Homo sapiens: one gene and its partners. The protein of the gene in region 2 interacts with the protein of the main gene of each other region in a pairwise test. Each region holds a gene or a part of one and is shown on either strand. Other genes may lie near its edges.

What was found.
Region 1: the proteins of NUMBL (region 2) and SPSB3 interact in binary tests that used the Homo sapiens proteins (3 or more experiments, as listed by UniProt).
Region 3: the proteins of NUMBL (region 2) and PSMA3 interact in a two-hybrid assay, tested with the Homo sapiens proteins (one large-scale study listed by BioGRID and IntAct).

Annotation. Positions count from the first base shown.
Region 1 is NC_000016.10:1,776,184-1,779,692, reverse strand, and holds the end of SPSB3 (SPRY domain-containing SOCS box protein 3), read left to right. Parts: exon of another isoform or gene 1-1,080; coding exon 1,081-1,258; coding exon of another isoform or gene 1,259-1,371; coding exon 1,372-1,559; exon of another isoform or gene 1,560-1,644; coding exon 1,645-1,747; exon of another isoform or gene 1,748-1,820; coding exon 1,821-1,946; exon of another isoform or gene 1,947-2,249; coding exon 2,250-2,596; 3' UTR 2,597-2,981; downstream 2,982-3,509. Other genes in the region: structure-specific endonuclease subunit EME2, read right to left, coding at 3,455-3,509.
Region 2 is NC_000019.10:40,666,652-40,670,300, reverse strand, and holds part of NUMBL (numb-like protein), read left to right. Parts: intron 1-280; coding exon 281-403; intron 404-2,162; coding exon 2,163-2,833; 3' UTR 2,834-3,649. UniProt on the Homo sapiens protein: Plays a role in the process of neurogenesis. Required throughout embryonic neurogenesis to maintain neural progenitor cells, also called radial glial cells (RGCs), by allowing their daughter cells to choose progenitor over neuronal cell fate.
Region 3 is NC_000014.9:58,261,840-58,265,488, reverse strand, and holds part of PSMA3 (proteasome subunit alpha type-3), read right to left. Parts: intron 1,785-3,649; coding exon 1,719-1,784; intron 125-1,718; exon of another isoform or gene 1-124. UniProt on the Homo sapiens protein: Component of the 20S core proteasome complex involved in the proteolytic degradation of most intracellular proteins. This complex plays numerous essential roles within the cell by associating with different regulatory particles.

The DNA of each region.
Region 1 (3,509 bases), on a different chromosome or scaffold from region 2:
GGAACCCGGCCCTGGGCCTGCAGTGCAGGTGCTCAGTTCTGTGCCCGGGCTCCTGACTCAGGGGGTCTACCCTGGCTCTGGGGACCCGCACTTCTAGGCAGTGGGGTAGAGTTGTCTGGGCCTGCCTTGTCTGTGGGGTGGGGCCATCCCCTCCAGAAAGGACAGTGTCCTGCCCTGAAGCTGGCTTTCGATAGGTCCACGTTCACCTGGAAGCTGGTGGCGCCCATGTCATGGTCCCCTGTGGCTTCTCCTGGGGATCACATCATCTCTCTGGACCAGCCCTCAACCCTCACTGTCACAAGGCCTCTGCCACAGGCCCCCCGCCACCACTTAGCACTCTCCCTGCTGACCCCCTGGTCCATTCAGCCCCTGGGTGGCCCCCACACAGTCTGTGACAGGGAGGAGGCTGGGAGGGGCACTGCCTCCCACAAGGAGCTCACGTTCTGGTGGGAGGAGGCCAAGAATCAGGACCAAGGAGAACTTCAGTGAAGCAAAAGAAGAAAAATGGAACAGGGGTGAAGGGGCTGGAGAAGCCTCAGGGAGGTGACAGCTGAAACCTGCACCAGGAGGGGCGGGGCCTGTAGTGGGCACTGGGCAGTAGGACCCTGTGGTGAGCCAGGTCTGCTCAGGTAACAGGAAGGTCGTTGGGCCACAGTGTGGTGGGGACTGCCCTGAGGCCGGGTGGCTGCAGCTGGGCCTGGTGTGGGGGTGGTGGCCTTGCCTGGGGGCCCCTGCAGGGCTGGCCTAGCAGGGAAGGTGTCCACACCATCTCAGCTCTGGGCAGGTGGGGTGGACCTGGGGCTTATCCACCGTCTAGAAACCACTTGGAGGCCAGGCAGCCTTGGCTACTGCTCTGTGGCTGGGCCTCCAGGGCCCTCCTGGTCATGCAGAATGGGGCAGAGCCGGAGCCCGTTGGGAGGGAGCCTGGGCTGTGCGCTCGGGGTACTGTGAAGTCCCTGGAGGCCTGGACCCCCATCCTTTCCTGGGTGGGTCAGGGACAGGGTGGGACAGGGACAGAGGGCAAGGGTGAGAGGGTAGAGAGCGGGCAACAGGTAGTAACAGCCGGCCCTTCTCTCCCAGCACAGCGACTCGGACTCCGACCCCGAGTACTCCACGCTGCCGCCATCCATCCCCAGTGCGGTGCCCGTGACCGGCGAGTCCTTCTGTGACTGTGCTGGGCAGAGCGAGGCCTCCTTCTGTAGCAGCCTGCACTCGGCCCACCGGGGCAGGGACTGCCGCTGCGGAGAGGAAGACGAGTGTGAGCGTGGGGCCCAGCCCCTGCTGGGACTGCACTGCGGGCGGGCCTGGGGGTGGGCAGGGCAGAGCCCCATGGAGCTCTCAGGGCTGCCCCAGCCTGGGCCTCTCTTGCAGATTTCGACTGGGTCTGGGATGACTTAAATAAGTCATCAGCCACCCTGCTGAGCTGTGACAACCGTAAGGTCAGCTTCCACATGGAGTACAGCTGCGGCACAGCGGCCATCCGGGGCACCAAGGAGCTGGGGGAGGGCCAGCACTTCTGGGAGATCAAGATGACCTCTCCCGTCTACGGCACCGACATGGTAAGTTGCTTCGGCCCAGGGTGCTTCTGGGGAACCTGGCTCCGGCAGCCCAGCCCCGCGCCCTCTGCCTGGCCCCTGTTCCTAGATGGTGGGCATCGGGACGTCGGATGTGGACCTGGACAAATACCGCCACACGTTCTGCAGCCTGCTGGGCAGGGATGAGGACAGCTGGGGCCTCTCCTACACGGGTGCGTGAGGCCCAGGGTGGGGCGGGGCCGAGCCTGGAGCTCCCGGGCTCACTGCGACCCTGGCTGCCCCCAGGCCTCCTCCACCACAAGGGCGACAAGACCAGCTTCTCATCGCGGTTCGGCCAGGGCTCCATCATTGGCGTGCACCTGGACACCTGGCACGGCACACTCACCTTTTTCAAGAACAGGAAGTGTATAGGTGAGGCCGTCACAGGACTTGAGCTCCTCTCAGCTGTCACCCCGAGGGAGGCAGCCACCCCGCCCCAGCCCAGGGGACACTGAGGTTTTCTGAAAGGGTTCCTCCCAGAAGCCTGAGGCCCCAGGGTCCCAGGGGGTGGGACAGTGAGGCCAGGCTGGAGTGGCAGGGCCAGCGCGTGCACCCTGCCTTGCCTCAGCTGTGCCAGCTGCCCACCCGGGTGACTGTAGCGTGAGGTCTGAGGGGCTGCGCCCAGTAGCTGGCCCCTTCCCTGCCTGGGGTTCAGGCTGGGCCCCTCCCTTCCAGGTGTGGCAGCCACCAAGCTGCAGAACAAGAGATTCTACCCGATGGTGTGCTCCACGGCGGCCCGGAGCAGCATGAAGGTCACCCGCTCCTGTGCCAGCGCCACTTCCCTCCAGTACCTGTGCTGCCACCGCCTGCGCCAGCTGCGGCCAGACTCGGGAGACACGCTGGAGGGTCTGCCGCTGCCGCCGGGCCTCAAGCAGGTGCTACACAACAAGCTGGGCTGGGTCCTGAGCATGAGTTGCAGCCGCCGCAAGGCTCCAGTGTCCGATCCCCAGGCAGCGACCTCCGCCCACCCCAGCAGTCGCGAGCCTCGGCCCTGCCAGAGGAAGCGCTGCCGCCGGACCTGACTGACTTCCCAGTGGAACTGCCTTCTTGGGCTGGGACAGCCCCTTTCCTCTGTCCCTTCTTTCTCTGTCCCTTCCTTCCAGCCACACTCCAGGGCGGAGTTGGATGAGGCCCGTCCGGAGGGAGCCATCTCTTGCTCCCGAGGCTGGGACAGTCCTTTCTGTGGGGGCTCTAGGGCCCCTCTGCTGCTGTGCTGGGTGGGGAAGCGGCTGCCCTGAGCCCCAGGTCTTGTGGGAGGCTGCGAGGACGAGAGCCTGGCTGGAGCCCGCGTTGCTGTTCCCACAGGGCCTCGGTTTTTCCTAACTTGCTCTGCATGCTGTCAGCGGCTGCCCCGCCGTCATAGACTTAAAGGACTGCAATAAATGTAGAGTTGATGTCTAACACCCACATGGCGTGAGCTGAAACGTATCCGTGCAGAGGCCGGGCTTGCGAGCAGCCTGGGCCTTCTCCCAGGCCTCACTGCCCCTCCACATCCTTGGGAGTCCCCTACTGCTTCTGGCTGAGGGTGCCACACCCCAAGCCTCCAGGTGGCAGTGGGGCCCTGGAGCTGCCTTCTGGTCCCTGCCGAGTGTGTGTGTGTGTTGGGGGGGCACAGCCCTGCTGCTGAGGCCTCCCCTGGGGCCTACGTGTTCAGGACTCAGCACAGGAACCGCCAGCCATCTGCCAGCCAGAAGCCCCTCTTCTCCCAGCTACCTAAAACTTCCCCTGCAACCACCCACCCTTCCCCTGAGGTCAGACCTGCTCAGCCAGAGAACCCACCCAGGCTGAGGGTCCACATGTGGCTGGGGGTCCTCCCCCACCGCCCAGGGTGTCTGGTCTGTCCCCAAGGCTGCATGCTGTCCTGGTGGTCCCACGTGTGGTCAGGAGCCCAGGTCCAGCAGGAGATCAGGGTTGGCTGTGGTCAGGAAGAGGCAG
Region 2 (3,649 bases):
GACAACTCTTCTGGTTTGTGGCCACACACAAATCTTGAGGTCCTTGGTTTGGGGTCCCTGTTACTGTCAGCCGTCAAATGTCACACACTAACTCAGTCGTTCTGCCGCTCAGATGTGACACACACATATGCACAGTTATTTGGCGGTCATGGCCACTTAGTTACTACAGTGGGAAAGGATCCAGGTCAGAAGAGAGGGCCACCGAGGGCGGGGGGTAGAGGGCGGGGCTGCGGCAGGGTCTGGGCCTGTTTGCTGACCTCTGTCCTGCCCTGCTTCCCAGTGCCTGAGATGGAGCCTCCTGGTGCCGGCGACAGTGACAGCATCAACGCTCTGTGCACACAGATCAGTTCATCTTTTGCCAGTGCTGGAGCGCCAGCACCAGGGCCACCACCTGCCACAACAGGTAAAGCCAGGCTTTCTGCTGGGCAGACACCCTGCATGTCCCTCCTGTATCCCCTCCTCTATCCAGGGCTACCCAGACACTCCAGGGGTCTTGGGATCCTACAGGCTTAGAACCATGGATCACCTCAGAGCCAGGGGATCATCCTACAACCATGGATCATCTTAGAGCCATGGGATTACCTGAGAATCATGCGATTACTTTAGAACCATGGATCATCTTAGAGCCAGGGGATCATCCTAGATCCATGGATCATCTTAGAGCCACGGGATTACCTGAGAATCATGCAATCACCTTAAAAGCAGGGATCATCTTAGAGCCAGGGGATCAGCCTAGAACCATGGGATTATCTGAGAATCGTGTGATCATCTTAGAGCCATGGATCATCTTAGAGCCAGGGGATCATCCTAGATCCGTGGTTCATCTTAGAGCCATGGGATTACCTAAGAATCATGTGATCACCTTAGACCCAGGGATCATCTTAGAGCCAGGGGATTATCCTAGAACCATGGATCATCTTAGAGCCATGGAATTATCTGAGAATCATGTGATCACCTTAGAGCCATGGATCATCTCAGAGCCCTTGATCATTTTAGAGCCACGGGATCCCCTTAGAACCATGGGATCATCCTAGAACTATGGATCATCTTAGAGCCATAGGATCACCTTAGAAACACAGATCATCTTAGAACCAGAGGATCATCCTAGAACCAAGGATCATCTTAGAGCCGTGGGATTACCTGAGAATCAAGTGATCACTTTAGAACCATGAATTATCTTAGAGATACGGGATCATTGTAGAGCCACGGGGTCACCTCAGAGGCATGTGCTCATGCTAGAATCTTGGGATCACCTTAGAGCCCAGAGATCGTTTCAGAACCATGGAATCCTTGAGAACCATGTATCATCTTAGAGCCATGGGCTTATCCTAGAACCACAGGTGCACCTTAGAATCTCAAACACTGTAAATGTAGAACTCGAGAATCTTAGAAAGCCCAACCCTAAACTGTCAAACCTTACTATGTTAGGATACTATTATACATGTGGAGAAAGATCCATGCAATCTTAGAATCTTAACTCCTAAAACAATACATTCTGAAGGTATTAGAAAATCAAGGGTGATATTCAAAATAGTGAATACCAGCTGGGTGTGGTGGCTCATGCCTGTAATCCTAGTACTTTGGGAAGCCGAGGCAGGGGGATTACTTGAGGTAGGAGTTCGAGTCCAGCCTGGGCAACATGTTGAAACCTCGCCTCTACTAAAAATACAAAAAATCAGCCGGGCGTAATGGTGCGCGCCTGTAATCCCAGCTACTCAGGAGACTGAGGCACGAGAATTGCTTGAACCTGGGAGGCAGAGGTTGCAGTGAGCCCAGATAGGGCATCCCTGGGCAACAGAGTGAGACTCTCAAAACGAACAGACAACAAACAAAACAAAATAGTGAATCCTAGGCTTGGCACTGACCAGTCAGAAGGGTAGTGGGGCTAGGAGGATGTCAGTCCTACTTAGACTTTCTCATCATAGGGCCTTAGAAGCTCAGAATTGTATGTTCTTAGCACTCCAGAACCATTACGTGGTCCAGAATGGTGAAGTCACTCGCCTGAAGTCAGCAAGCTCGGGAGGTGCAGAGCTGGGATTCAGAGGCAGGCGGTCTGGCTCCAGAGTCCGTGCTCTGATCCCCACACCATGCCAGTTCCCAGCCTGGGGTTCTTCTGCTGAAGCCGTTGCCCCCTCCCTCACCTGTCCCTCTCCTCTCTCCAGGGACTTCTGCCTGGGGTGAGCCCTCCGTGCCCCCTGCAGCTGCCTTCCAGCCTGGGCACAAGCGGACACCTTCAGAGGCTGAGCGATGGCTGGAGGAGGTGTCACAGGTGGCCAAGGCCCAGCAGCAGCAGCAGCAGCAACAGCAACAGCAGCAGCAGCAGCAGCAGCAACAGCAGCAAGCAGCCTCAGTGGCCCCAGTGCCCACCATGCCTCCTGCCCTGCAGCCTTTCCCCGCCCCCGTGGGGCCCTTTGACGCTGCACCTGCCCAAGTGGCCGTGTTCCTGCCACCCCCACACATGCAGCCCCCTTTTGTGCCCGCCTACCCGGGCTTGGGCTACCCACCGATGCCCCGGGTGCCCGTGGTGGGCATCACACCCTCACAGATGGTGGCAAACGCCTTCTGCTCAGCCGCCCAGCTCCAGCCTCAGCCTGCCACTCTGCTTGGGAAAGCTGGGGCCTTCCCGCCCCCTGCCATACCCAGTGCCCCTGGGAGCCAGGCCCGCCCTCGCCCCAATGGGGCCCCCTGGCCCCCTGAGCCAGCGCCTGCCCCAGCTCCAGAGTTGGACCCCTTTGAGGCCCAGTGGGCGGCATTAGAAGGCAAAGCCACTGTAGAGAAACCCTCCAACCCCTTTTCTGGCGACCTGCAAAAGACATTCGAGATTGAACTGTAGCCCGAGCCGCCCCACCCACTCCATCATCTCCAGGTGCCCCACGCCTGGGGGTGGAGGCACAACCTCTCCCCTAACCCTGCTCCCTGGGGCTGCGCCCCTCAACACCCTCTCAACACCCCCCTCCCTCAACCACCCCGACAACCACTACAGAACCAACATTGTGACGCCCAGGTTGCAACAGGATGGAATTCAGGGACGGACCCAGCCTGGCTAAGGGAACCATTTCACTGCCGGACTTAGGCTGGCAATGCCCCCTTCCCCAACCCCAGACACAGGGGTTGGCCACAATCCCACTGAATGCCCTTGGTTCACACTCCATTTCCCAGTTTCTGTTGACCCCCACCTTCCAGTGTTGGACAGGATGGAGGGGGGACACTTGCTTAGGGGCTCTCCTGGGCCCCACACCAGTGCCCACCCCAAATCTGGTCGTCTCCTCCCCCCATGCACAGCACAAGCTAAGGGCTGCCCTCTGCCCACACGCTGCGTTCACTGCCAATGCTGTACTCACCTCCATCACCCTCCAACTTTGGGGCCCATGTCTTCCTTGGGCCAAGGTCTCATGGGGGCTAGGGCCAAGTTGGGGGCCCAGGAGGCGGGGAGGGAGGAGGAGGAGAAGATGCGCAGTTACCTCATGTCGGTGCCCGCTGGGGAGGGGTCCGGGAAGAAGGGGAAGGGGTGCCTGGCGGGTACTTTTCTATCTTTTATTTCCAGATTTTTTTTGTATCTAAACTTGAAGATTTGTATTATACAAGGACAGCCAATAAAGGAAGAATATAATGGTGCCCCTCGGGAAACGAGGGTGTGTGTAGGGCGCTG
Region 3 (3,649 bases), on a different chromosome or scaffold from region 2:
GCTGTGTTCCAATAAAACTTACACAAAAGCAGGCAGTGGGCCATAATTTGCAACACCTGATTCACAGCATAATTTTGTCACAAACTGAAAGTGTTCCTCAATTAAAGTGATTTTTTTTTCTTGATTTTTCTCTGGGATTTATTGTTTTTCCCATTCCTTGCTAGGATTTAACTACAGAAAGACAGATAGTAACTGCTCTAAATATTCTAATTTCCTTTATTTTTTTGAGATAAGGTGTCGCTCTGTTGCCCTGGCTGGAGTGCAGTGGCGTGATCATAGCTCACTGTAGCCCCCAACTCCTGGCTGGGGCTCAAACAGTCCTCCTGCCTCAGCCTCCCAAGTAGCTGGGACTACAGGCACGCACCACCTCACCTCGCTAACATTTTGTTTTGGGAGATAGGGTCTTACTCTTTTGCCCAGCCTGGTCTTGGAACTACTGGGCTCAAGCAGTCCTCCCAACTTGGCCTACCAAACTGGTAGGATTACAGGGGTAATCCCCCTCAACTGACATAAATATTCTAATTTTCAAATTTCCATATAATAGTATGGAGAGATGAAAACAAAAGGAAAAGAGTAGAAGATAGGAACCTAGCATCATACTAGTAAGTGTGCAATGGAAAAGAACATAGGTCTAAGACTCATAAGGTCTGGATACTGTTCAGAACCAGCTGATTCTGTGGTCCTATGCAGTGTGTTTAATCTGCAGTTGAGCTTGGGCTAAATGACCTCTAAGATCCTTTTGTCAGCTTTACTAAAATACGAAACAAATTAGGTTTTATAGGGGGTTCTAGAACTTAGCATTGTATAAATGCCAAGCACTAATAAGTATTTTCTAGAAGCTGGTCTTAAATAAGTTGAATGAGTAATTAGTTGAGCAGGGTTCTAGTACAGCATTAACATTAAATGTATGTGAAATTGTATCTCACTTCAGTTTACCAAAACACTGATAAATGGTATGCCTGCTTTTTAGGCAAGTTTCTGACAGGTAATCAATAATATTGAAACAGTATCCATGAAGTCTTTAAGTTGATCAACGCATGGCTAAAAGGAAAACCAAGTTTTTAAGAAAACTTTTTCACACTAATAGCTGAATTTTGTGAAAGAAAAAGTGGGTAGTCGTAAGAGTGTAGGCTTTATGCCTTACCTGGCTAGGAGCAAAGCTAAGAGAACCGGTGGAGCACAGCCAGACATAAAAGCTGTGTTCCAAAGAAAGAATATAGGAAAAATATAACTTTTTATTAACTCAAAATTTTAAACAAAATTTTCAAACTAGAGCTCACAGAGATTCATAAATAGGTTTCAAGGATTTTGTGAAATCATATCAAAAGTTGTGTTTTTCTAGATTGAGGCTTTATAGCAGTTATTCAGAATCTATAAAGGGATGTATAACACAACTCTACAGATAATATGTTACCAGCTTTCCCATTCAGTGACTTAGCAGCTTCATAAACTCTCAACATCAAACCACACTATATCCTTACACCGAGCTTCCCCAGCCACAGGCCACATGGGGCCAAACACAAATTCGTAAACTTTCTTAACACATGATGAGATTTTTTTTTAAGCTCATCAGCTATCATTAGTGTTGGTGTATTTTATGTGTGGCCCAGGGAAGCCAAATGATTGGACATCCCTGCCTTAGACTGAAATGTCTGTGGTGATAAAATTTCACTGCATTAGGATGACGACATAGTAAAAATTCAAGCATTAATTATTACCTGAAGCTTCTCTATTTCCGTCTTTGCAGCTTGCCTGGCTTTGCCGATGGCACAGCCCCAATAACCCTATTTAGAAAAAAATATATATAATCACTGAATTAGTACACTATCATATGTAATTAATGACTACTAATGTTTCTATAACCTAGTGAAAGGATGCTAAATGACTTTTAAAAGCAAGTATAGAAAAATATAGTCAAACACATTCTGATGAATGCCAAAGGGCTCAAAAATACTAAAATACCAAACAATTCCAAAACAACCTGTATTTTTAATAAAGGTATATCCAAAAATATGTAAATTATGTAATCATATACACTTTAAGACATTTTGGGGAACAGGAACGGAAAAGATTTTAGCACTATGACAATGAAAAATGAAATTATATATTCCTGAGAGACAGAAATAAAGTTAATTCCTATGAGTTCAGTACTCTAAACCCCCAATTTTATTATTTTGTAAATTTTTTTAAAGATAAGGATGCACAGCTGGGTGTGGTGGGTCATGCCTGTAATCCCAGCACTATGGAAGGCCAAGGTGGGCAGATCACCTCAGGTCAGGAGTTGGAGACCGGCCTGGCCAACATTGTAAAACCCTGTCTCTACTAAAAATACAAAAAAATTAGCTAGGTGTGGTGGCAGGTGCCTGTAATGCCAGCTACTCCAGAGGCTGAGGCAGGAGAATCGCTTGAATCTGGGAGGCAGAGGTTGCAGTGAGCTGAGACCGCGCCACTGCACTCCAGCCTGGGCAACAGAGTGAGACTCCATCAAAAAAAAAAAAAAAAAGGATGTACACATATATACTTCTGTTACAGCAAAATATATTTAAGAATCTTCATTTTCTTCAATTAGTAAAAACGACAAAAATGTAAGGATAAGAAAACAGTTAAGAAACGGTAACAGGCCGGGTGCAGTGGCTCACACAAAGTGCTTGTAATCCCAGCACTTTGGGAATCTGAGGCACGTGGATCACTTGAGGCCAGGAGTTCCAGACCAGCCTGGGCAACATGGTGAAAGTCTGTCTCTACTAAAAATACAAAAATTAGCCAGGTGTGATGGTACAGGCCTGTAATCCCAGCTACTTGAGAGGCTGAGGCACAAGAATCCCTTGAATCCGGGAGGCAGAGGTTACAGTGAGCCAAGATTGCACCACTGCAGTCCAGCCTGGGCAACTGAGCAAGACTCTGTCTCAAAAAAAAAAAAAAATGGTAATAATTTAGGGAAAGCTCTTAGAAATCACATTTAAACCTTCTCTTTAAAAGGGAAGGCAGGGCAAGGTGGCTCACACCTATAATCCCAGCATTTTGGGAGACCAAGGTGGGCGGATTACTTGAGATCAGGAGTTCGAGACCAGCCTGGCTAACATGGTGAAACCTCGTCTCTACTGAAAATACAAAAATTAGCCGGGTGTGGTGATGCATGCTTCTAATCCCAGCCTACTCGGGAGGCTGAGGCAGAATTGCTTGAACTGGGGAGGTGGAGGTTTGGCGCCACTGCACTCCAGTCTGGGTGACAGAGCGAGACGCTGTCTGAAACAAAATTAGGTCCGGCACTGTGGCTCACGCCTGTAATCCTTGCACTTTGGCAGGCCGGGGTGGGCAGACCACCTGAGGTCAGGAGTTGGAGACCAGCTGGCCAACATGGCAAAACCCCATCTGTACTAAAAATACAAAAATTAACCAGGCATGGTAGTACATGCCTGTAATCCCAGCTAATCAGGAGGCTGAGACAGGAGAATTGCTTGAACCTAGGAGGCGGAAGAGGTTGCAGTGAACCAAGATCGAGCCACTGCACTCCAGCCTGGGAGACAGAGTGACACTCCATCTTATAAATAAATAAAATAAAAGGGATGACATGGCTGGACATCGATGCTCACGCCTGTAGTCCCAGCATTTTGGGAGTCCAAGGCAGGAGGACTGCTTAAGGCCAGGA